5 separate regions of the Homo sapiens genome follow, and regions 1, 2, 4 and 5 are each linked to region 3. The links come from fine-mapping of genetic effects on gene expression. A gene starts in region 3. Each other region holds a variant in brackets. All regions are shown on one strand. Distances are from middle to middle.

What was found.
Region 1: its variant is fine-mapped to the expression of AOAH in whole blood (INTERVAL, PIP 0.95).
Region 2: its variant is fine-mapped to the expression of AOAH in whole blood (TOPMed, PIP above 0.99).
Region 4: its variant is fine-mapped to the expression of AOAH in whole blood (TOPMed, PIP 0.99).
Region 5: its variant is fine-mapped to the expression of AOAH in whole blood (TOPMed, PIP above 0.99).

Annotation. Positions count from the first base shown.
Region 1 is chr7:36,572,527-36,577,633 of GRCh38, reverse strand. It overlaps AOAH (acyloxyacyl hydrolase), which reads left to right. Exons shown (of 21, transcript NM_001637.4): 13 at 978-1,060. Among named protein-coding and RNA genes, the nearest start is that of AOAH-IT1, 25 kb to the left of the region's middle. The variant T/AAT (reference allele first, on the strand shown) is at 2,623.
Region 2 is chr7:36,519,957-36,525,063 of GRCh38, reverse strand. AOAH (acyloxyacyl hydrolase) reads left to right here. Exons shown (of 21, transcript NM_001637.4): 20 at 2,949-3,025. Among named protein-coding and RNA genes, the nearest start is that of AOAH-IT1, 78 kb to the left of the region's middle. The variant G/T (reference allele first, on the strand shown) is at 2,975.
Region 3 is chr7:36,722,372-36,727,478 of GRCh38, reverse strand. It overlaps AOAH (acyloxyacyl hydrolase), which reads left to right and starts at 2,985. Exons shown (of 21, transcript NM_001637.4): 1 at 2,985-3,457. The coding sequence starts at 3,331.
Region 4 is chr7:36,540,145-36,545,251 of GRCh38, reverse strand. It overlaps AOAH (acyloxyacyl hydrolase), which reads left to right. Exons shown (of 21, transcript NM_001637.4): 16 at 4,761-4,933. Among named protein-coding and RNA genes, the nearest start is that of AOAH-IT1, 57 kb to the left of the region's middle. The variant A/G (reference allele first, on the strand shown) is at 2,054.
Region 5 is chr7:36,589,860-36,594,966 of GRCh38, reverse strand. AOAH (acyloxyacyl hydrolase) reads left to right here. Exons shown (of 21, transcript NM_001637.4): 12 at 537-628. Among named protein-coding and RNA genes, the nearest start is that of AOAH-IT1, 7.7 kb to the left of the region's middle. The variant T/C (reference allele first, on the strand shown) is at 3,097.

The sequences.
Region 1 (5,107 bases), 150 kb after region 3:
AAAAAGGAGCCAAGAAAATGAGTTAAAATATATATAATTATAGCCTGATACTGGTGTCAAATTTTTCCGTAAGCTCTGTGTTTATTAGTATTAGATTCAAGGAACAGAGATTCAACATATATGAGTTTATTTCTCTCACACAGAAAGGTTTAGAAAATGTGCAGTCTGGAATTGATATGGGAGCTCAACTCCACCCAGTTCTCAGGGATCCAGGCTCCTTCCAGCTCACCCCTCTGCCTTCTCAACGTCAACCTTATTCCCATAGTTTAAGATGGCAGCTTTCCTATTCTGGGCAGGAGACTGGAGAAAGGGTACAAAGAAGGAACCAGAATCACCATTCAATCATTTCCTAAGAAGCGTTACCAGAAATTGCCACTGGATAGTTCTGATCCCATCTCATCTCACCCAGAACTTAGTGATGTGCCACTCCTAGCTGCAAGAGAAGCTGGAAAACGCAATCCTCATTCTGGACAGACATGGGTCTTGCTAAAAATTCTATAAATTCTATTGTAGCAAAAATTCTATTGTAGTGCATGAAGGGAGAATAAAGCTGAAGGACAATAATAGTGTCAACCACAGCTTCATAGCAACCAAAAAAAAAAAAAAAAAGAAAGGCAACATGATCAGGTTCAAAATAACAGAGTCGGTAAAGGTGAGCAATTGCTCAAGAAATGTACAGCAGCTCTTGGTAAAAAGCATTTGAAAGGGATGACTCTGGAGGTCTTTGTACAAAAGAAAAAGTTTTATGTCTTCAACAGTATTCTTACGACACCCATACAACTCAATTTCATAGAACTGCTTCTCATAACAACTGCCAATATTACATTCACAGTTCAGAGAAAACTTGTCAGCAGAGATTTGATTTTTTGAGTTCATTTTAACCATATTTTTTTAAAAGCGTGATGTAAACATGGTTTGTTTAAACTTCTTTATGTGAGTATCCTGACCTTAAATATATACATATATATTTGTTTCAGAATTAAAGAAAAATCTATTTACCTTCGCTTATGGAAAAGAAACCACTGTAATCACAGGGACTACCAGAATATTTCAAGAAATGGTACGTAACTTTCCATTTAAGCCTTCATCAATGTTCCTGTAATGATTGAGTTTATTTCATAAGTACCTCAAAAGCTGAGATTCAGATAACAAGGATCACAGAATAAAATGAACGGTCTCCCTTCCAATGCCATTGCCCTTTCTGAAAGAAGGGCCCTGTGCTTAAAGCCATTTACCCACAGCAAAGGAGAACAAAAACAAGCTGCAGTCAAGGGGTTGACCAAGAGAGCAGATCATTCACCCAACAGCAAAGTTCTAGCAAGGCCAAGGCACAGGATGTTTGAGGCTCAGGAGGCAAGACCTAAATGAGCATTAGCAGAACAAGAGCTGAGAAAAATTAAGGTCATCGCAAAAGCTCTGCCCTCTCTGATGGTGCAAAGTCTCCCACGTTTCTGCTGGGGTTGGAGTTTTCAGTTTCACCTGTGTGGGTTTCAATCTTCCACCTTGGACCTGGAGGCGGTCTATTGCCACAAGATTCTGATGAAACTTCTGATTGATAAGCCATGGCCTGGCTAATGCCTAATGAATTGCCAAGGAATGTTTTGTAACACCATAATGCAGAGATGGTAAACAGTGTATGTGTTGCCACTCTGTCTTCCTAAGCCTGGGAAAGATATTGCTAATCAGCCTTGGCACTCTTGTCTGCTATGCTCAGATTCTGCCTCAGCAGTTCTCGAAACACAGCACGTCTGACAATCATCATCAACAAATTAGGCTTGGCACATGAAGTTAAACCTATTTGCCATCCCTGTGCTATCTCTAATTAACAAAAGATGTTGAGGAATTTTCCAAGCAACAAGCGTTTAAACTAAGTATGTGACCTACAAATAATGTATTTCTTATAATAAATATTCTATACAGAATAAATGCTCTCCTCTTCTAAGAACAATATAGATTTTTTTTACTAATAAAATAATTGCTGCCATTAACTGAGCTCTTACCAAGTGCTAAGAACACTTTATGTTTATTTCTGTTAATCCTTTCAACAACAGACATTGTAAGGCAAGTATTATTAAATTTCTTCAGTACTAATACTATTGATTGTAATAGCTCTAGGGAGTGTTGAGGGAGGGAAAAGGAAGGAAAAATTACAATGTTCCCATTGATTGCAGCATTCAACTCAATACCAAATGCGTTAAAATATACTTCTCAGAATTGGGCATTAAAATAATATTCACACCGTAGCAGCTGGGGAAATGGAGGCATGGAGAAACCAAGACTCTCTTCCTCAGCCACACAGATAGTAAGTTACAGAGGAGACACTTCTACCCACGTTGTCTCACTCCACTCAGATACCAACAAAGATAATACAGTCATTGGGCTATGATCCCAGATGATCTGCAGAAAGAGATCGGCCTCATCCCTCTGCAAGTTGAACACTATCAATAGTTAATGGACAGTTACAGTCAAATCTGGCCATGTGACTCATCACAGATACAAAGTGAACATCAGGTGTGTGGCTGCACTTTCTTTTTCCTTTAGTGACATACTGAAACAGCCCCCCAACACTGTCAAATACCCTCTGTCAATGAAGATTATAAAAAACAAAGCACAAAAAAAAAA[T/AAT]CATCTGTGAGGAATATCATGCAGCCCTAGAAAATGATGGCTAAAAGTCAAATATATTTTTATTTGGAAAGACAAAACACTGCCGAAAGAAAAATCAGGATATAAAATTCAATCATACAGTTTAGTTTCTACCACATTTTTCAAAGAAAGGGAAAAAAAAGGTATACGTAGGAAAGATTGGTAGAAAATATAGAAAATCATTATGTTTGATAAATTACGAGTGATCGCTTTCATTTTTTTCCGCTTTTCTGTTTCCTGATGATTTTATTTGTATACAGAAATAACCTTTAAAAAACTCGACAGAAACTGAGTCTAGGAGTAGAACAGGGCTTGTCCAAGGTTCCATAGCCAAAGGTATGAGGTTAGGGTAAGACACTGAGTGATAGGATTCTGCCAGAAATGCAGGCTGCAGGCTGCTCTTTGTTACTTGTGACTCTAACCCAGCATTTCTCTTTCACAACACCCAGGTGTGCAAAGTCGACATCACTTTTCTACCCACAATAAATGTAGTGATCTTTCATAAAATCATAAAGACCAGAGTAAGATAATCCAAAAAGTATAACTAGGACACCTGATAGTAAATGGTTGTCCTTTTGCGATCTCCTGTCTTGACAACACTCCTTTAAAATTCAGATTGCAAAGATAAAAGGGGAGACAGGAGACAGGAAGAGAGCCTAATCGTGTCAAAATGTGCTCGAAGGCCGTGGCTTTTGTCAGACTTTTGTCTAATGAATAGATGCCGGGGAATAGGGGATATTTTCTTCCTTTTCTTTGAATTTGCAGTCCTTAGAAATGCATAAAATGTATACTTTGTCTAGTATTACTATCCTCGACTATTTTTCTAAGACTGTAATAGTAAAAAGATATTTTTTTAGTTTCTCAGTTACTCATTATTTAATGTTCTGGTTTTACTCTCCAGCCCCTCTTCCTATTTTCTCTTGTATTTCCTTGCTATGGACTTTCTTTTGATATTACGCAGCAATGTAACCTGACTACCCATGCTAAATTACTTCAATTACTCTCCAAGGTTTTTATTAGATATAGGAAAAGTCAGCTTTTCACTTTCTGCATATTTATGGGGCTACACTGATTTTTCAGAACCAGCAAGAGAGAAAGGGGAAAAAGGGAAGAGTTGAATAGAATAGTAAAGTGTTTCTTAAAAATTGGGTAGTAAGAATTAAAGAAACAGCTCCTATTTTCATCCTGATCCTTATGTAAGAGATCTCAAAAACGTCTATACATAACTCTGTCATGAACCCCAGTCAGTGATTATAACGCATTTTTTTATTTTTTTGAGACAGAGTCTCGCTCTGTCGCCCAGGCTGGAGTGCAGTGGTGCGATCTCAGCTCACTGCAACCTCCACCTCCTGGGTTCAAGCAATCCCCCTACCTCAGCCTCCCAAGTAGCTGGGATTACAGGCACATGCCACCACGCTCAGCTATTTTTTGTATTTTTAGTAGAGACAGGGTTTCACCATGTTGGCCAGACTGGTCTCAAACTCCTGACCTCTGGTGATCCACCAGCCTCGGCCTCCCAAAACGCTGGGGTTACAGGCGTGTGACTGTGCCTGACCCTATAACGCATTTTAAAATGGAGAATGGAGAAGTCATCTTTAATCCAGGGAATGATTCTCTGGTGCAGGGGTTAGGAATGGCAAGAGTGCTGCCAAATCTTTTTTGCAATCAACAGAGGAGGGGCTTGCAGTGGCTCTCAGAACTTCCTCGATACCAAAATGGCCTGAGTTGGGAGGCAGCCAGCACATGGAAGAGGGAAGGACCCAAGAACTGCAGAGCTGGCTGGCTCCTCTGGTCCTTCTCTAAGATGGAAAATAGGGCCCTGAAAACAGAGAGCAGAGCCCTTCCTCTCCTGATTGCCTCATATAATTGTCTCTTTTCCTTGGGGTATAAAGTAGACTGGTTTTGAATTTGGGTCCTGGAATTAGTGTGTGGCTTGGGCCAATCATTGAATGTCTCTTGCCTGTTTCTGCATCTGTAAAATGGGGATCATGGTTCATTGAGCACAGTTGCCAAAGGTGACCCTGGATCTCATTCAGGGTTGCCCAGACAACAAACCACCTTGAATGGGCCATCTTCCCCATCCTCCTGGGGGAGAGGCTGCACCCAAACTCAGTGGGATAAGGCAGTGCTGGAGATAGCTACCTTCTCATCTTTTGCAAACCCAGCTTTTCTCCATTAAAGCCAGTTATTTAAATTATGCCATGTGACATTTTGGAATTCATCACAAAACCTGGTGTGTGACTGACCAGATATGTCATACCTTGCACACAGGGATGGGAACGGTACATACCTGAGCTTCATGGGGCTGCTGAAGACTGAATGAGAAACACAGGGCTTCATAAATGTCCAGCATCAGGGTACCACTGACACAGTGTCGCTAATTCCACCTACCAACTGTATTATTATTTACTCAGTGGTTTTGAAAACCATTTGTTTTTTCTTTCTTTTCTTTCCTTTTTTTTTTTCT
Region 2 (5,107 bases), 200 kb after region 3:
GGACTCTGCCTCATGTCTTATTCATCCAACTCTTCACAACTTTTTAGTAGGCTCTGTCTGAAGTCTTGATGAGGCTCAATTCCCATTGGCCTGCTGTTATTAGCATACCTGGGAATTTTTTAATAACTGTCTTATCTCAGAATGCTGTAATAAAATACCATGAACTGGGTGGCTTATAAACAACAAAAATTTATTTCTCACAGTTCCGGAGGCTAAAAGTTTAAAATCAGGATGCCAGCATGGTCAGGTTCTGGTGAGGGTCCCCTTCCGTGTTGCCGACTGCCAACTTCTCATCATATCCTCACATGGTTTAAAAAAAAAAAAGAGTGAGCGAGCCCTCTGGGGTGCATTTTATTTGATTTATTTATCTTTTAATTTACTTATTGTCGAGACAGAGTCTCACACTGTCTCCCGGGCTGAAGTGCAGTGGCGCAATCTTGGCTCACTACAATCTCTGCCTCCCATGTTCAGGCGATTCTCCTGCCTCAGCCTCTCGAGTAGCTGGGATTACAGGTGCCCACCACCACACCTGGCTAATTTTTTTTTGTTTTTTTTTTTTTTAGGTTTTCTTTTGTATTTTTAGTAGAGACGGGGTTTCACTATGTTGGCCAGGCTGGTCTCGAATGCCTGACCTTGTGATCAACCCTCCTAGGCCTCCCAAAGTGCTGGGATTACAGGTGTGAGCCACCGCACCTGGCTGGGTGTGAATTCATGGGCATGAATTCCATGATGGGGGCTCCATCTTCACGGAATAATTACCTATGCCATCATACTGCGGATTAGGGTTTCAACACAGGAATTTGAAAGGGACACAAACATTCAGTCCGTGCAACACCCTGTTGCGATTGTCTTTCATTCTTTCTTTTCTTTCTTCTGTTAGCATCTGTACAACATAAGGTGAAACCCAAATAAAAATAAAGGGAAAAGTGGGAAAAGGGACAAAACGTTAATCAAGAACTTTGGTGAAGCAAAAAGGAGCACAAGTAGAATGGAGATGATGTCATCTCTGAAGTCACGGAGGGGATGGGGAGGCTGACATTTCACCTGGCCCGGGCCTTTCTGCATCGTTGCTGATTTTTGTTTGAGAGACTCCTGTGGGACTGCAAGGAGAGATGGGACAAAGACCATAAAAGGACAAAGAGAACTGAGAGGGCTCAGTGGTGGTGATCCTGGCTCTCTGCATTTGAAGAAATCTTTCCAGATGGCTGGTTCTCCATTGATGGCAATTTGTTGGATGTTCAGATTGGGAATGGCAGGGGATGGGCTGGATAGCATTCATGAGCAGGCAGGGCCAGCATCGCAGCCAGCAGGGCAGTCTGGAACCCACAGGAGCTTCAGAGTGTCAAGTCCAGAGGGAAATGTGAGGCAGCTAGAATTGAACCTCAAGAAGAAGGTTGCATTCCAAGGACATGCCAAAAAAAAAAAAAAAAAAAACAGGCAAAACAGGCCAGGCAAACTGAAGACTGAGCCAGGCAAGCTTCCCCAAAACTGTGCCTTTACAAGACACTATGGCCAAGGGCAAGAAAGAAATTGTTGAAAGCTGCATGCTGGCTTGGCAGAACAAATAAACTTTCATGAGAGTGAGTGCTGTTTAAGCATCGATGCAGCTCTGAGCTTCCTATTAGAAGAGCAGGTACCTACCATTCCTTCAGATAGAAGTGCTATTTACCAGCACGCCACAACTTCTCCCTGGAGACTCTGTGTGGCGGACACCATATAACACAGTGAACAGTGTCCTCAATTTGAGTTTTCAAGAAATGCAGAGGCCACTTACCAATAGCTATTTCTTCCAACAGCCTCTAGTAAAACCCAGAAGCATAATATGATGCTGTGTCTCAGGGGCAGTCTTTCTGCCAGAGAATAAGCTAACAGGGGCTGGCGATTCAGTGTGTAGGACTCCAAACCATCAGTATGAATTTTTTTCCTGAGCTTTGAGAAGGGCAGCATTATCCTCAGCCCCTGGGGAATGGAGGTTGAGTAGTAAGTGGGGATGCCATGCTGGGATATTAGGACTAATTGTAAAAGCAGCCTTGTATTGACCCAGCCCTGGGAAGTCCAGCCCGTCTTGTCCAATCAAAGCCCCTGACAGAATTTCCGTCCTTCCTTTGGGATGAGAAGGGGAGAAACAGGTCACAGACCTATGTTCTTGAGTTTTCTGGGGAATGAAGAGTAAAGAACGGGAGGAATCTTAGTTGTGCCTGCCCCCCTCACTGGACGCTGGGCAAGTGAGGGCGTAGCTTTGCCGGGAGCAGCTGGCTCAGATGCTGCTCTCCGGAGGCTTCCTAGGGATTTGAAGTTTCCTTGAGGAGTTCTTACTGACTGTATGATGGAATGACGTAGAGTTAATTGTGCTGTTGCCTTGGAGCAACTGACATTCTTGGTCTCTCATCCCTGTTGAAGGACAGTTTCATTGCTTTTCATCATTCTGGGGCTCGTAATATTTTTTCTGCAGCCATACTCCCTCCAAATGTGGCGATGAGATAATTTTATGTAATTATATTCCTGACATACTGTATGATTTTTAAAGGCAAGTGCTTGACACATGCAGGCAGAGTCTGCAAATGGCAACCCATGAAAGGGGATGTTAACAAAATGTTGGATTTTTCCCTACTGTAATACCATCCTACTGCACCACCAAAAAATGACATGTACTGAAATAGATGTTGACTATTTTAGAGCTCACCTTTTCCTACTGCCCTCCCTGCTACACAAACCACATTCATCCAATGCTCTCACGTATTCCCTTCCTGAGTTAGAAAAAGCACACACACAGCGGGAAGATCATTTCTGTTCAGAAATCCCCCAGTGCAAGAGAGCAGCTCAGAGGCAGCCGTGGCTTGGTCAACATGGGCCCGGGAGGGCATGGGCAGTTCTCACGTCCTTGTCCTTGGATATTGGCCGTTGCTTGTGCAAGTGTGTCTGTAACCCTCTCGTTATGTGCCCTGCAGTCATACAGGAGTGGCAGAAGAGAGGC[G/T]GACAGCCCTGGCAGCTCATCGAGCCCGTGGATGGATTCCACCCCAACGAGGTAAGCACAGTCACATGGTGGCTGCAGAAGGCTATTTGATGGTTTGTTGGTTTTTAATTATGGTTACACATTCATGTGTTTATTTTTATCCTGTTTTGTTCCAGAAAGGATTTGAGGTAGTGTACATACATGTATAGGATAGAAGATTTAATAAAAACAAAGTGAAATTTGGGACAATAGGGAAATAAAGTAGAAATTATACCTGGATTCCTGATTTAATTTCTATAATTCATAAAATATGTGCAGGGCATTCCTGAGAAACTGCCAGAAGGGCAGCTCTGTGCGATGCTAAAAGGGGCAGTAAGCCATGGCTTCCATAATACAAGAAAAATAAATCAAGCACTCCAAAAAAAAAAAAAGGAAGAAAGAAAAGGAGGAAAATGACGAGGATTTTTTGGAAGTGAGACCCATGAGAAATTTATTCTATGGTCTTTCTAGAAAGGGTGCTGTATAGGAGGAGAACAATGTCCTTAGCAGTATCCTGCAGTAAGAGCTGTTTCTCATCAAGGATCCAAAGTACAGTTCTGTAAAGTAGCTCTCCTCTGGTCTCTTCACAAAGCAAGGGGAGCCAGAGGGTGGGACTCTGTCCCCTCCCGGCTCCACTCCCATCCCATTATCCTGGCTTCAACCAGAGAAGCTCCACTTTTATCTGTTGTATGTCCTGGACTTGCTCACGACATTTCTTTATTAAGAAGAAGAAGAAAAAGAAGTGGGGGAGTTGTTCTGCCACTTGTAAAATGTTGAAAGCTGCTCCTCTATGGGGAGGGATGGGCCATTTACTCTCAGGCAATACCACATCACTAGAGCCTTTCTGCTCCAGCCGTGGGGGAAGCATGGTGTGGCTACCAAAGGGTACAAACCTGAGGAGCATGCCTGGGGGATGCTCGCTTGCTGGCCACCAAGACCTAGGCCACAGGAGGGCTGATTGTCCCCTCAAGAGCCTGAATGACGGTAAACACAGCCCACCTTCCTCCAACTCTAGGCTCAGCCAGTGCTCACAGGCAGGGCTAAGAATCACCTCAAAAGGAACAAGAATAGAAGGATGCTCACTCCCCAACAAATGAGTAAAAGTGGCGTCCCACAAATGCTGAGCAAATTTTAAAGTAAGTATTAAATGCCCACCTCACGGATTTAAATAGCCACACACAAAAAATCAGAATAATGCCCTCAGAATTTCTAACCTTCCTGTGTATCAGTTGGATGAGTTGATCAAAGAAAATTATTGGCTAGATTCTGGTTAAATATCAGGGTCTGATCCCCCAAAAATGATGTCTTTGGTTTTAGAAGAGTTTGTGTATATCCCTACTTTCTATTTTTTTTTTTTTTTTTTCTCGAGACAGAGTTTCACTCTTGTTGCCCCGGCTGGAGTGCAATGGTGTGATCTCCGCTCACCGCAACCTCCGCTTCCTGGTTTCAAGTGATTCTCCTGCCTCAGCTTCCTGAGTAGCTGGGATTACAGGCATGCGCCACCACACCTGGCTAATTTTGTATTTTTAGTAGAGACGGGGCTTCTCCATGTTGGTCAGGCTGGTCTCGAACTCTCACCCTCAGGTGAGCTGCCCGCCTCAGCCTCCCAAAGTGCTGGGATTACAGGCGTGAGCCACTGCGCCCGGCCCCCTTCTTTCTAGCAGTTATTAGGTACTAGTTCTTATCATTCTCTGCACAGAATAGCATCTTACCCTTCTGATTCTGTAAACAATGGGTATATGAAAAGATGGCCATGTAAAGTATCAGGAACAAACTAAAAAGAGGAGGATCAAAGACAGCTTTGTTTTATCCCCCAGGATATATTTATCCCATCTATCAAATGACCATTCCGTCCCTGACTCTTAAAATGATCTTGGGGTTCAAAGTCTGTCAAATTGGGCCTCTATCTTGTACTTAAACAGTTTCACCTATATCTGATTATTGAAAACACAGTCAAAAGCTGAAAATCAATGTGTGCCATAATCTTATGCTATTCCTGCAAGACTTGTTCACATGCTGGTAGCCAGTGATAAAGTGGCCAAAAATGGATAGCCAGGCCTAAAGCCTGCCTATTTATCATGTATATTGAGCTGAAAAGTCCAGATTGGCAAAGTG
Region 3 (5,107 bases):
GGTTTTGGTAGATGGGAACTGAGGACTGCTGTACACAGTCCTGGGCAGCCAGGAGTAACAGGGCAGCATGGACCTGGGCCTTAGAGAGAGGAGAAAGTCTAAGACGAGACACGTGTTGGTGACAGTGCCAGCTTTTACAGGATCTCCCATCACCCACCTCTTTTTTTTTTTTTTTTTTTTCTGATTAAGGAACTTGCTGTGGATGAGGTGGTTGAGGCCAATGTGGTCAAAAAATATTCAGGAAGCATATTCATACTGAACAAGCAGACCACAGGTGCAACACTTGGGGATCACAAAGCCTTAGCCTTCCATGGCACAGGGGAAAGCAGTGGTTTGAATCAGAGCTGTTTGAGTGAAATCAGTAACAAAGTGCTTCAGGGAAGAAATCTCATTTTCAAGAGCAGATTTCGAGATGATTCAAAATTGGAACATCTGACAGTGGGGTCCTGCAGGAACATTCTCCAGGGCCTGACTAGTTGTTCTAAACCACAGGTAGGTCCAGGGCCTTTTGGCAAGCTGTGCAAAGATCCCAAGTCATTTGCACTCAGTACTTGATGAGCAAAGGCAGCCCTGTCAGGGGCAATGATACCAGCCAGTGTGAAGGACAACTGTGCAAATGGGAGGGTCCACTCCATCCTGGTGACGGAGAGGGATGTTTTGTTCAGTGGTCTGTGCACACGTGCACTTTGTTCCAGCTTCTGCTGGCGAAATCACTTTCTGATTTCTGCATTCTTCCTTTGATCATGCCCAGTAAGAACTCACCCTCCAAGCATGAAAAATCCTTCCATTACTGAAAACCTATGTGTCAGGTTTTACCATGATATATTCCTACGAAGTAGATAGTCTCACCTCCCTTTTCTAGCTGAGGACTGTCACCTCTGGAAACAGGAAGGGGCTTGCTCAATACTGCACAGCTAAGTCAGCGACTCCCACTGTGACCAGCCCCGAAGCCTGAGCACACTAGAGAGTTTCAGAGCCGACCATCCCTGGGATGGTTGTGAATGGCACTGCCTGGCCCACATACATGCGATGAAGGGCACAAAACTTGCATTTCCGGCATACCAAGAAATCCCTCTCACTCTAAGAGTTTCCAGACCTGCTCGCAGCTATACATTGAGACCAGGAGAGCCTCAAGAGGCCCAAAGCCTGTGTCAAATGCTCTTCCAGAAGCCCTCAGGAGAGTCCTCACCCATTTATGGATTAGACAAACTAGACCACACACTCCTGGAGTGCTGTAGCACAGCTGGAAGGTATTCAATAAATCCTCCCTTTTCCTGTCCTCACCATTTCCCATGTATGACATGATGGCCTACAACTACCATGGGCGTCTTGGAATTCTCTTGAAGCTGGTCTGGGGTGCAGGTTTCATCACACTCCTGCTAGAGTCATAGACAGATGCACTAAGCACTTACTTCTTGCCAGCCATGCTGCTTTGTTGTTTGGATACATCATGTATTCGAGTGCTTCCAGCAGCGCATTGGAGCGGATATTACCATTATCCCAATAGAAATGAGCTACTTGGGAGGCTGAGGTGGGAAGATCACTTGAACCCAGGAGGTCAACACTGCAGTGAGCTGTGATCACACCACTGCACTCCAGCCTGGATGAAAAAGCAAGGCCCTGTCTCAAAAAACAAACAAACAACAACAACAACAACAAAAACAAGACACTGAAGGGGGGAAAGTTACATCACTGGTCTAATATATTACTCAGAATAAACAGTAGACATGAGACGTAAGCATGAGCCTTTCTGTCTTCACAATCTGAGTTCCTAATCAATCAGTCCTTTATTTAGCCTCCCTTGGAAGTCTCTGGAACTTCTCTAGGCCTCACCCCTGTGGTGGTCCTAGTGACCCCAGAGCTCCCCTTAGTCACAGAGTGAAGAACTGAAGCAGCAGCACCTTAGAGTCAGAGGAAGTCACAGGCCCATGGACGCCTAACGATATCCTCAGTATTGGGCTGGAAGTGTAATTAGGGAAACACTCTGACTTGTGCTATCTCTGCAGCAGGTTTGGGAATTGTAGCCCCATCGGTGCTTGTAAGACTAATGACTGCACAAGAAATCTTCCAACCATAAAAACTGGTATTTCCTACATCCTGGAAAGGATGCTACTCTAAAACTTTGCCTGCTACTCCAAATGCTATTTTTTTTAATTGCTAACAATTTAGATAGCTTCTATAATATTTCAAAATTTGTAATAAGCTCCCTCAGAGCCTAAGCAGAGAGAAACAGAATCTCATGACCTCCTACACTTACCTAGACTGTGGTACTTTGGCCCTGTCCTCTTATCTTGACTGAGAATGGCATATGATTTTGTTTTATCTTATTTTAGAGAGAAACATTTAGATTATATGTCTTTTATCTATGATCTGGTTCCGATTTTTTTTTTCCCTCAGAAAGACAGTGTTCAGTTCTATTCTTCAGAGCAGAAAATCAGTCTCTTAACAAATCATCCACAAAATGCACTTCGAAATTCTGGAGAAAAAAAAGATGCATTGTGCACAGCCTAGCAACTGTGAATTGATTAATTCTAACCCATGTTTTTTCTCATTAGGTCTAAAATCCCACCATGCTAACTGCCCATTATTTTCTGTACTGTTTATTTTCTGCACACCAAATAAAAGGCCTTGACCCTTCAAGGAATAACCCAATTTCTCCAGAGGAAAGATATTATTTGACCAGAATATCCTTTTACAACAAAATAAGGATCACAACCTTACCATATAAAGCTGTTGAAAACAAGACTAAGTAAGTTCTGAATGTAACCAATTAGAATTTCTACAATATGTGGGTGCTGCTGATCAAATTGTTAAAGGGTTGTGTGCTTGTGGATTAGTTTTTTTTTTCTTTTTTCTTCTCAGTTTTGGCTTTAGTATCGTTTTGTTTTGTTTTGCAAGAATGAAAGGGGAAGGGCCTCCTAACCAACCCAACAGATCAGTTCCGGCAAGCCTCGAGGCTCACGGGGTTTATGCACACTAACTTCACTGAGCCAGGGAGCACGGAAGTTGTGCCACTGTGCAACTTGGGTTTTCTTTATCCTGCAGTCTTTACCTCAGCAGAACCGCACACCACAGACTCCCTCCAGCTCTTTGTGTGTGGCTCTCTCAGGGTCCAACAAGAGCAAGCTGTGGGTCTGTGAGTGTTTATGTGTGCTTTTATTCACTTCACACTTATTGAAAAGTGTGTATGTGAGAGGGTGGGGTGTGTGTGTCAAAGAGAGTGAGGAAGAGAAGGAGAGAGAGATCAATTGATTCTGCAGCCTCAGCTCCAGCATCCCTCAGTTGGGAGCTTCCAAAGCCGGGTGATCACTTGGGGTGCATAGCTCGGAGATGCAGTCCCCCTGGAAAATCCTTACGGTGGCGCCTCTATTCTTGCTCCTGTCTCTTCAGTCCTCGGCCTCTCCAGCCAACGATGACCAGTCCAGGCCCAGCCTCTCGAATGGGCACACCTGTGTAGGTATGCAAATAAATATTTTTGTATTTTCTATGTAGACATAACAATGGGATCCAGTACTTTGCTTGCGTAATAAATCACATATTTTATTAAATCAAGAATTGTAAGATTCCAGGTAAGGCACCAGTAACCTCACTGACACAGAGAAATGTGGAGTCTAAGAGTAGACATTGACACTACATACATCTATGTGAATAAAAAGCATACTAGTTTAAATTGGGCATAAAACTCTTCCACCTCATTGGCGATTGGAATTTTTTCTTCTTGTATAGGTAACTATTATTTCAGGCTATTTTAGTCTGAAATTTTTACTGCTTTTCATGGGCTTTGACCTCATATAAACACATCTGAGTTTGAATCACTGCCCTCCTCCTACCCTTCTCTCCCATTTCCTACTGGCTGTGGAAACCTGGAGCAATGTACTTAACCCTCTCCATGCTTCTGTGTCCTTATTGGTGAACTGAAGTGAGTGAGACCCATCTCATAGGGATACCATGGAAATTGTGACCATGCATGTAAATCTGTGGCATGTGCACACAGTAAGGACTCAACCATCTTAGCTTCCTTCCGTCTCTCAGAGAATCCAGATTTGGCGATCACCTGGAGACGCTGAGCGTTGATATGGCTTCTTGGCTCATCTGTTAATGAAGTGTTTTATTTCCAAGAGGTTTTTTTTGTTTGTTTTTTTTGGATGAGAGCAGGAAGTAAGGTAAGATCTTTGATATTCACATTGTAGCTCTCATAACATGGGAATTCTCATAATAGTGGTGGCATTTAGATGGTACAGTCCATGGAGCCACATAGACTCAGAACTCTGAGTAGTAAGTAATTGTTCAATGAGCAGACCTCAAAATACAATCCTAGCTTGAGAAGCCAGGAAAATAACTCTAGGATAAGTCTGATGGCTACATGCTGCAAATGGAAAATCTGGACACAGATTCTGACACTTAGGAATTGTTTCTGGAGACAATATGGAAATATATCTGAATTTGTCCTACTTCCTCAAAATCATGGCCTCAGGTCATTGTACATGTTAGGAGATGCATCTCTACTTCCAAAGTCCTTTTTTTTTTTTTTTTTTTTTTTTTTCTGAGATGGATTATCGCACTGTCACCTGGGCTGGAGTACAATGGTGCAGTCTCAGCTCACTGCAACCTCTGCCTCCCTGGTTCACACAATTCTCCTGCCTCAGCCTTCGGAGTAGCTGGGATTACAGATGCACACCACCACACCCAGCTAATTTTTTGTATTTTTAGTAGAGATGGGGTTTCCCTATGTTGGCCACACTGGTCTCGAACTCCTGACCTCGTGATCCGCCCCCCTTGGCTCCCAAAGTGCTGGGATTACAGGCATGAGCCACCGCGCCCAGCCTCCAAAGTCTTGTTTTAATTAAGACCCAGATTCCCCAAGACTATTTTCCAGAGACCTGAAGGCAGAGGTGTGTGGTCCTTTGAACCATGCCTGGGAGATCATCCTCCCCCAGTATTTGGTTTCCTTAAATAACTATTTGCCACCTTTTCATTTTTCTCAAAACAAAACCCTACTGCCCATCAAATGGAAATACACTTGAGAAAAGCTCAGATGAAATCAGTTTTACTTCTGGGCTCATTGCAAACTAAATGTTTGAGTTTGGGCAAGTTGTCAGGGCTGAGA
Region 4 (5,107 bases), 180 kb after region 3:
CTATGCATGGGGTAATATGGAAGTCCTCATCCCATTCCCAGTCTGTATCAAGATGCCTCTTCTCCCCAGCTACTCAGGAGGCTAAAGTGGGAGGATAGCTTGAGCCCAGGAGTTCAACCCTGCAGTGAGCTGTGATCATACCACTGCCCTCCAGCCTGGGTGATAGAGCGAGACCCTGTCTCTATTTAAAAAAAAAAAAAAGATTTCTCTTCAAGGGGATTGGATGGGAGCCCAACAATGTGATTGCAACTGGCTGGCATGAAGAAAAGGGCTAACCCTCTTACCTGGGTGTTTCAAAAACACAAATGCTAGCTGTGAGTGAGGTGTGAGCACTTGATCACTACAGTGATCTGGGCTTTAGCTATGGTTCCAGGAAGCTGGTTTTCTGCACAGGCTGATCAGTTTCTTCCTTGGAAGGGACACCTCTCTCTAGCACCAGCCAGGTGAAATCTGGCTGGCTTACCTGCCAGGGTAATGAAATGATCAGGCTTATTTTGCCTGATCAGACACAATTCATTAGGGCGGGACAGGCTTCAGAGCCACCTTCAGGAGTGAGGCTCTTCATCTGTTCCCAGCCCGGCCATTTGTTTCTGACATGTGTGAGAGCATGTCAGTGAGCACCAGTTTCTCTCTCATTATTTTCCCCAGTGTGGCCCCTGTGCCACAGGCTGGTTTTCACATCTTCTCTGTTAGCTGAGCACTCTCGATCTCTCACCTATGCATCTGAGTGTCTGGGGTGAGCTCGCTGGTGTGTGAGAAGGGGTGCTGGGACCCTGGAGTCGGCAGACAAATCCGGGGTGGCAGGTGCCTGGGACACCTGGGTTGAAAAGGGTTAGACACCTTCAGCTCAGCCCATTCGTCCTTTGGCAGACACCAGAGAGACCTAGGAGATAGTTCTCAACCACTAGGGTTCTTTGGTCTCCAGAATACTAACACAAAGTCTCCCCCAAACATCACCAGAGGGGAAAAAGTACACAGATCAAAATGGCATTGAAAAATTTTCAGGGGGCCGGGCGCAGTGGCTTATGCCTGTAATCCCAGCATTTTGGGAGGCTGAGGCAGGCAGATCACGAGGTCAAGAGATTGAGACCATCCTGGCCAACATGGTAAAACCCTGTCTCTACCAAAAATAGAAAAATTAGCTGGGTGTGGTGGTGCTCATCTGTAGTCCTAGCTACTTGGGAGGCTGGGGCAGGAGAATCACTTGAACCCGGGAGGCAGAGGTTGCAGTGAGCGAGATCGCACCACTGCACTCCAGCCTGGGCAACAGAGTGAGACTCCATCTCAAAAAAAAAAAAAAAAAAGAAAGAAAGAAAGAAAAAAGAAAAAGAAAAGAAAACTTTTCAGGGACAGAAGTCAAAAGCCACCTTCTATGGCATCTGGGAGGGGTGATCGTCCCATGAATCACATAGACTCCCTTGCCCTTACCTGAGCTAAGAGTTGGTTGATTTTGCTATGCAAATTAAAAGTAAATTATGTAGTTGTACAAGGTGGAACAAAGATAACTGGAGAATGTTCCATTAGCAACACCAAGGCTTATATTTTGATTTCACTTAGCAATTAGCCATGTTGATTATGCTTGCTTAATTTGTGGGTGCCCTTTCATAAATACAAATTAGCTCAGATTCTTCGTTTAGCATCAGGGCTGTGCCTCTAACCGAAAAAAAAAATTATTCAGTGTGGATTTGGGGAGACTTTGTCCATCTTAACTCATCTTGCCCTTATGTGGTTGGAGAACATTAGCTCAGCATAATTGCTTTGTGCCAAAGCGTGGCTGTATCAGCAGGAAAAAAAAAAGTGTGGCAAGGCAAAAGTGAATAGGCAGTATTTGCCAGCTTTACCAGTGCCAGAAGAAAGGATATAGACACCCAACTTGCCTTTCATTTCACCCTTGCTGTTACACTTCAAACACACAGTGAATATAGAACCTAGATACTTGGGGCAGGTTCTTCAGTGCTGCTTCTGTGCATATGGGAATCAAGTCAAAGCCCCTCCCCACGCTTCTGCTCTAGTAGGTAGGCAACCTAGTCGCAAATCGTCATAGCTGGTTTTT[A/G]TCAGGTAGGAAGATTTTTATTTTTAAAATAGTGTAATTTTTTCATGACAATGGAAAACATGAAATTAGCATGCAGTTCTATACCCTGAGGGTTTGTAAAATTAGACATCTTTTTCTCTCCCCCCTTAAGAGACTCTAGCGATCCATGACATAGTTTAGAAGCACATACACCAACCATAACTGCCACCCTACTGGCTACCCCCATGGCACCAAAAGTATTGTTGTAGTCAACAATACTTTAATACTTTTTAGCCATCTTTCTATATTAATACATACAAATTACTTCTTTTTTTTTATTCAGGTGAAATTCACATAATGTAAGACTAACCATTCTAAAGCAAAAATTCAGTGGCATTTCCAGTTCACAATGTTGTGCAACCAACGATATCTAGTTATTATATTCCTAATGGCTATATAGAGTTCTATTGCATGGGTGTACCATAATTTATGTATTTAGGCTTTTATCTTTTTCCAGTGGTACACTATACCAAGCAACATTACAATATTCGTATGTACATTTTTGCACATTGGTGGAAATGTTACTATAGGATAACTTCTTGAAAGTGAAATTCCAAGGTCAAAAGTTAAGCCAGCTTCAAATTTGGATACATTTTGAAAAATTGCCCTCCGAAAAGGCAGTGCCAATATTCATTTATGAGCTCCCTTAAAAATGAGAATTATGGATCCCTGGGGGCCCCTTTCTGCCCCCTCTTCCCATATCACTTATGCCCTGGGTCCAGCCTCTGAGTGATGGACTTATTTTATCTGGTTCACAATCTGTATTAAGTTCCCTGGAGCTGCCATAACAAAGTACCAAAACTGGATGACTCAAAACGCAGACATGTATTCCATCTCAGTTCTGGATGCTTAAAGTCCAAGATCAAGGTGTCCGTGGGGCCATGCTCCCTCTGAAAGCTCCAGGGAAAAATCCTTCCTTTTGTCTTCCCACTTCTGGTGGCTTCCAGCGATCCTCAGCACTCTTTGGCTTGTGGCAGCCATAACCCCAGTGTCTGCTTCTGTCTTCACATGGCCTTCCTCCTGGTGTATGTCTGTGTGTCCTCTCCTCTTCTTATAAGGATTCAGTCATTGAATTTAAGGCCCACACTAATCCAACATGACCTCATCTTAACTAATGACAACCATGAAGACCCTATTTTCAAGTAATGTCACATTTTTAGGGACACTATTTAACCCACTATCATTAGGGAAACTGGAATTTTAAGTACACAAAAGAGAAAGTAACACTGTAGCATTATTCCATTTAGGGTAAAGACAGGCAGTTAGAGTGTAAAGAGTAGATGAAAACTCTAGAAAATTCTGTATTCTACTCCCAAGTTAATGCAGGTTAGGATCCGAATCCAAATTTGTTGTGTTCCTGAAGGTGTGTGCAAAAGTCAATTGTACAAAGAAATGAACAATAATAAACTTATATTAATGCCAAAAATACTTTAGCACCCCTTGCCTTTTAAACATAGCTTTTTAAAATAATTTCAACTTGTATTTTAGATATGGGGGTACATGTGCCAGTTCATTGCATGGATATATTATTGTACGACGCTGAGGTTTGGAGTACAAATTACCTCATCACCCAGGTGGTGAGCATAGCACCCAAACATAACTTTAAATCAACCAATGAGTGCAATTTTAACATAACTTCAAATGATGTCTTGTAGTATTTTGTACATTCCTTACTTCTTTTCCAAACCAAATGAATATAAGTCAATCAGCTTAAATTCAATAAATGTCTGATTGAGGGTAAAGATTCGTCACTTTCAGCTCACTTAGGAGCTTCACCTTTGTCTGACATGCTTTGATTTTAGGCCTGTGTCTCTCATAACTACTTTCAGTACTTTCTTTTTTTATTTTACTAACTTTTATGAAATAAGAAGAGAAAATATAATTTAAAAATTCAAATACCCTCTATAGAGCACAAGCACTACTATATAAAGACAATAATGCGGGCTGGAATTGTTGTGAAATGCTGTTGCAGGGTATAGCCTGGAATAGAAATCCATCAGGAAATGCATGCAAGTCCAAATCCAGTGTAGAAATGGAAGGATAAAGAGCAAGATACAGTGTGGACGTATAATATAACTTAATCAGTAAGATTCTGTTTTCTAACTGTTATACATGTGAAAAGTTTTAAAGACCAAGTTATAGACCTCGAAGTGTCAAATAAATCATAAGTAATACCAGACCCCTTTCATTTCAAAAACTGTGTGTAAGTCAGGCCAGCGAGTTTATGCTACAGGAACAAAGGAACAAACAGCCCCTAAAATCTTAGTAGCATAAAGCAACAAATGTTTACGTCTCTCTCACACTACTTGTCCATCAGAGATCACCATGGGACTCTGTTCCAGGACTCAGATTGGTGAAGCAGCTATCTAGAACATTGCCTATACCCATGCAAAGAAAAGGAGCATTCTAGAAGGTGTCACATCACCAAATATGACACATGTCACTTCAGCTCACCACTCATTGGTTAGAACTAGTCACATAGTCCACTCAACCGCAAGGGAGTCAGTAAGTACAGCCTATGTGTCAGAAAGGTGGAAATCCAGGAATATTTTGCAAATAGCTCCAATGACCACCACACTGTGTGTGTGTGTGTGCGTATGTGTGTGTGATGTATCTTGTATTTGCGTGCAACTTGCATGCATCTATCCTTACAATCAACCAAGATATTTTCTGTTTATTCCACCAACAGGAAGAGTGACCCAGTCCCAGCCATGACCACTCCTGAGAAACTCTACTCCAACGTCATGCAGACTCTGAAGCATCTAAATTCCCACCTGCCCAATGGCAGCCATGTTATTTTGTATGGCTTACCAGATGGAACCTTTCTCTGGGATAATTTGCACAACAGATATCATCCTCTCGGTATCAGTTTGAAGATTCTTTTACTCTTTAATAACATCAATGTATATACAGTTCAATGTATATATGGTTCAAACCATATAGAAATGTGCCTAAAATGCCATCATGGAACATGGGTCAGGGTTGATAAAGGCAAGAGCCCCTAGGTGCAGTATCTAAAGGTCATTATCCAGAGGT
Region 5 (5,107 bases), 130 kb after region 3:
CCAGGTTAAATACACGTGCATTTTTGTGGGGAAAGGAACCACAATTAGATTCTCAAAAATGTCTGAGACCCCCAAGAAGGTCAGAGGGCACCACCTTAATGCCTTAAGGCCATAGCTTTGAACCCAGGGAAGGCATTTTTTTCTGAGGGATTAGGCATTATTTTTCAGATTAATTACTTTTCAGATGATTGACTTTCTGATGGCCTAAACTGCAAAATGGAGAAAATCTCAGAAAATGTAAGAATGGGAAGTTTAGTCTGCTGAAGCATCCCTCCCAAGTGTTTGAGATGCCAAATGTTCTGCATGTTTCACAAGAGCTGAGCGGAAGCCAGGTCAAGGGTGGTGCTGATCATTGTGACTTCCCTGATGAAGTTGAAGGTTAGAGACATCTGCCTTGAATACCAAAAGCCCTTAAAGCGAGAGATTGAGAGTGGGAAACAGACACACAGAGAGCAACACTCAGGCCATGAATTTTCTTACTACCTTTAGAAAATAAATGACCATTTTGATAATTGCTACTTTATTGTTTTCCTTAGAACTCTTTCATCAATCTACCAACAGCCCTTACCAACGAGCTTGACTGGCCCCAACTCTCTGGTGCTACAGGATTTCTGGACTCCACTGTTGGGTAAGTGTCTTTGTGCACCCTCAGACATTTCAATACCTCTGTGTAAGGAAAGAACAAGAGATGGGGGTTGCTACCAAGATGTTGAAATGCGAATTATTAGGAACTGCTTCTAGAACATGAATTTGAGTTCATCCACCATACAGTAGGATGTAATGCAAATTGTATTTTAGCAGCACTGGCAAGAAAAGCATATTCCTGCTATGGGCAGGGTGGGGGTGGAGTTCCATAGTTTACCTCTGATGGAAAATACTAAACACATCACTGAAATTTTCTGATTCAAGGAAAAACAAAGTTTACTTATTTGTTCTCAGAAATAAATTTGTAAAGATAATGGCCAAAGCTGATTGGCACTTCTCAAAGTCCTAGAATCATCCTGGCTTTAATGCCCCAGATTTGTAGGTAGAGACCAGGCCTGGTGAGTTTGAATGACACACAAACCCAATTCACTACATATGCCTGGGTGTTAAGGCCTGGGGTCTGCTTCCCAGGGCCCACACTTGGCAGGGACACCTGTGATGCTGGTGAAACTTGGCAAGTGTCCCTAACATGGTAGTAAACCACAGATATGAGTCTATGGCCATCCCACCCTGAACACACCAGATCTTGTCTGATCTCTGGAAGGTAAGCAGGGCCTGGTTAGTACTTGGATGGGAGAATGTCACAGATATGAGAGGCAATTTCTCTCCCAACATCTCCTAAACATTTATGACAGTTAATAGGCACAAGGAAGATGGCAAATGAATGGCTTCCATGTGTAAAAAAGAAGAAAGGGTAGAGCTTTGCTTTTAGGTCTAAAGACAGGACAGAACCAGCTAGGAAGCCCCTCTCTGACTCAGGCAAAAATGGCAGAAGGCTGGAAAGCACCATGAGATAAGCCATGAGAACTGTGAGGAGGGCAAGTGTGCATGGGGTGTGATTTACCCAAATCTGTAAGGAACAGGAATGCCCCCAAAGGACAGACATTAATCATTTTAACAAGCAATTATTCTGATGAACAAAGAACATTGTGTGCCATGAATAATTTATTTGATGATTTTTATTCATCTGCTTTAAAAATATTTCTTAAATACTTAACCACCTAATCAGGCACAGATGTTACAGGTGTCCATTTAAAGGTAGATAGGGCTTGTCCCATCTTTGTAGTCAATTGCAATTAAGGCAGATGAGACAAGTGAACAAATAATGGTAATGCAAGGAAGATATACTAATGACAGGTCTCCTACAGAGCCACGGGGCTCCGAGGAAAAAGAGTTCATGGAAGTGATCAACAGTCACTTCCTTTGGGTGGGTAACACATGGGAGACTGGGGTCATAAAAGGGGCATAGAAGAAACTAGGAAGGGAACTAACCTTCAGGGAAGCGTACTCATATTTACATAGAAATAATCTGCCAATATAGGGAAAGCCAAGGAGATGTGTTTTCCAGTGTAGTTATACCTTTTCAAACTTAATCATGTTATTTTAAAAAAGGCTAGTCCTTGTCATTAGTGTAAAAATACTAAAATACTTACTAATAGGGATAGTAAGAAGTAACCTTTGAGAAGTAACAAGTAACTATATGCCAAGCATTTACTGAGTGTTGTATAGATATTCTCTCATTTAACCTCCTTGTGAGGTAGTGGGTATTGTTCTCTGCATTTGCAGTTGAGAGATCCAAGGGCAAATAGACAGAATAAGAATCTTGACCAAGGTTGCCCAGCCAAGAGTGGTAGGGTCTGTTTTCATGGAACCTTGTGTCATATCATAACAAAGATATGTTCTTGCCTCTCAAACTTTGTGTTGTTTTTATTCTTTGTGTGGGAATATGGCTCACTCTAACCATTGTCCCTCTGTGTGAGAGCATAGCTATGGGATGGAGAAATGACTAAGAACCAAGAGAAGTCCTCCCCATGTAGAGGTGTGGCCTGCACTATTTCAGTGACCCATCATATGCCTCCTTAGGGTCCCAATAAGCACAGACATCTGGGACTTTCTGAGTCCTAGCCTCAGTCCCATCTTCCCTCTGCTACAGCCTCTGTTGTCTTTACCTGGAACACATCCAGAGATAACCCAGCCAAAGCAGGTTTATAGAAGAGAGAACCTTGGTCATCCCCCCAATTTCAACATCAGAAAATAAAAAAATATATATGTTTAAATGCCCTCCACCCAGTCTAGTCATTTCTCAATAAAAGTATCTGGAATTTTCTCTCAATCAAGGCTTTTATGACAATAACAAAAAGAATTAATTAGGTATGAACAATGAACACAGTTTACTGTACCTTTAATGAAAGCTTAAATTTTTACATATTGACTCTATAAATCCCAACTACCTTTTGGCCCCATGAAGTTGCCATAAAAGAAATACCGATCCGATATTTAAAATTAATTTCCAAGTAGTTTAAATCTTTACTGGAGTCACTCAAGGAATGAAAGAGGAATCCATTCACCATGCCCAGCAAACAGATAAAAACATGTTTCCTCATCTCTTTC[T/C]GCTTACAGCTCGCACACACCAGTAGTTGCTCTGTATTTCCTAAATCTAAACTTCCCCAAAACTTGACCCACACTTAGCTCCTTCTCCCAAACAGACTCTGTTCAGTCATTTTGAGTTTCTATTGGGGGATGAGAGGGAAAGCTCCCTTTTCCTTTCTGCATCTGTTCTGTCCTCCCACCAGGGGTTTACTCCCTTATCAATGTAAAATCCCACTAGCTCTTCAATCCTGCAGCAGTTTTTACCCATCATCCTGATCAGTGCCCAGCAGGCAGACAGGATCTTCCATCAAAGCATGGCAATGGGGTAAGGGGAAGAGGAAAAGTTGAGAGCCTTCAGACATGAATGGTTTCTAACTCTTATAAGCATTATGCAGAGAAATTCTGACACCATCTCACAAAGTAAGTGACCATCTAGGTGTGGCTTATATGAAAACCATCTCTATCCTGAGCTAGTCTTTATTGACCTAGTACCTTTTTATATTCGGTTCTCTATTACTGCTTACAAAAAACGCATAGTCTGCTTAAGCAACTTCCTTAGTGTTGACTCTAAGTCCTGTCCTTACCTGTTGTATTTCTAACGAGGCACACACCACAGCTGGTTGTTCACCTCCCCTGCAGGAACTTTTCTTTCTATGTGTTTGTGGGACCCCAAGCTCCCTAGCTGTTCCTCTCAGAATGCTCTTTTTGCCAGCTGTTTCTGTGTACTGTGCCTGTGTTTGCTGCCACTCAGCTGGAGTGGAGAAGAATATACCAACTCCTTTTAATGGAAAAGGAAATTCTCTGTTTGGAATCTGAGTTGCAATGGATTCCCCCATTAAGCAGAAACAGAGGCAGCATGACACTGCATCTGTGGGATCATAATTTGCTATGTCCCTCCCAGCAGTAGTTACAGCTAAAGTATCCATATACCATTGTATAAATTATATTCACAGATAATTTGTGCTAGGCCAATCTCCTTATTAAAGGAATAGAAAGTTATAAAGTATATAAAAATATCAAAGAGATTAGCATATGATGGAGGTCCTCATTTGTGGAATCAGGAAAATGAAAAGAATGTTGACCCAGAAGCAGCACTTCTGAGAGGTGTATACAGCTCCCATGGGCATTTTGGGCACATGCCCTTTGAATCCAAATGCTTATCCACAGAATTGGCGGATTTCTCTATTCAACTGGATCTCCAGAATGCGCTTCCTACCATCATGATCAGCCTTCTGCTATGGGTGTCAACAGCGTCCTTTGGAAAATGTGCCTTGTGAAAGCATCAGGAGAGGAAATGGCTCCTTCCCTTTCATTCTTTGTTTATGCTCTTTGTCCTCTCAAAATTTATTATCCCCTTCATAGATAACTTTAATTGAAATTATGTGCATGCATTAAATGACAAACATAACCCCTTAGTTTTACAAACCTTTAGTTCTTTTAGTTGAGTTGATGTTAACAAAAACTGTTTTCTTGACTCTTGGGCTTCAGAAAATTCAATAAGTGATATCCCTTAAAAAATATACTGGGATTTTTCTTCAGTGTGATTCAGGAAGAGATTGAGTAGGTCAAAAGCAGAAAAAAAAAATCTCTGTGGGGGTTAAGAGCTTGGCAATAGAGCAGTATAACTGTAAATAGGAAGAAAAAAGTATTTTTAAAAGATTAAAAATAGCTACTGGGCATCTGAGGTGAAAAGATTACTGGAGGCCAGGAGTTTGAGATCAGCTTGAGCAACATAGCAAGACCTCATCTCTAAAAAAATATTTTTTTTTAATTAGCCTGGCATGGTGGCATGTACTTGTAGTCCTTAGCTACTCAGGAGGCTGAGACGGGAAGATTGCTTGAGCCCAGGAGTTTGAGATTGCTGAGATTGCTGTGAGCTATGATCACGCCACTGTACTCCAGCCTGGGCAACAGAACAAGACCCTGTCTTTAAAAAAGTAAAAATAAAAAAGTAAAAAAAATTAAGATTAAAAATTGTACTTCATGTTCAGATCACTTTCCAAAGCAATTCATATAACAGGAAAATCCTACT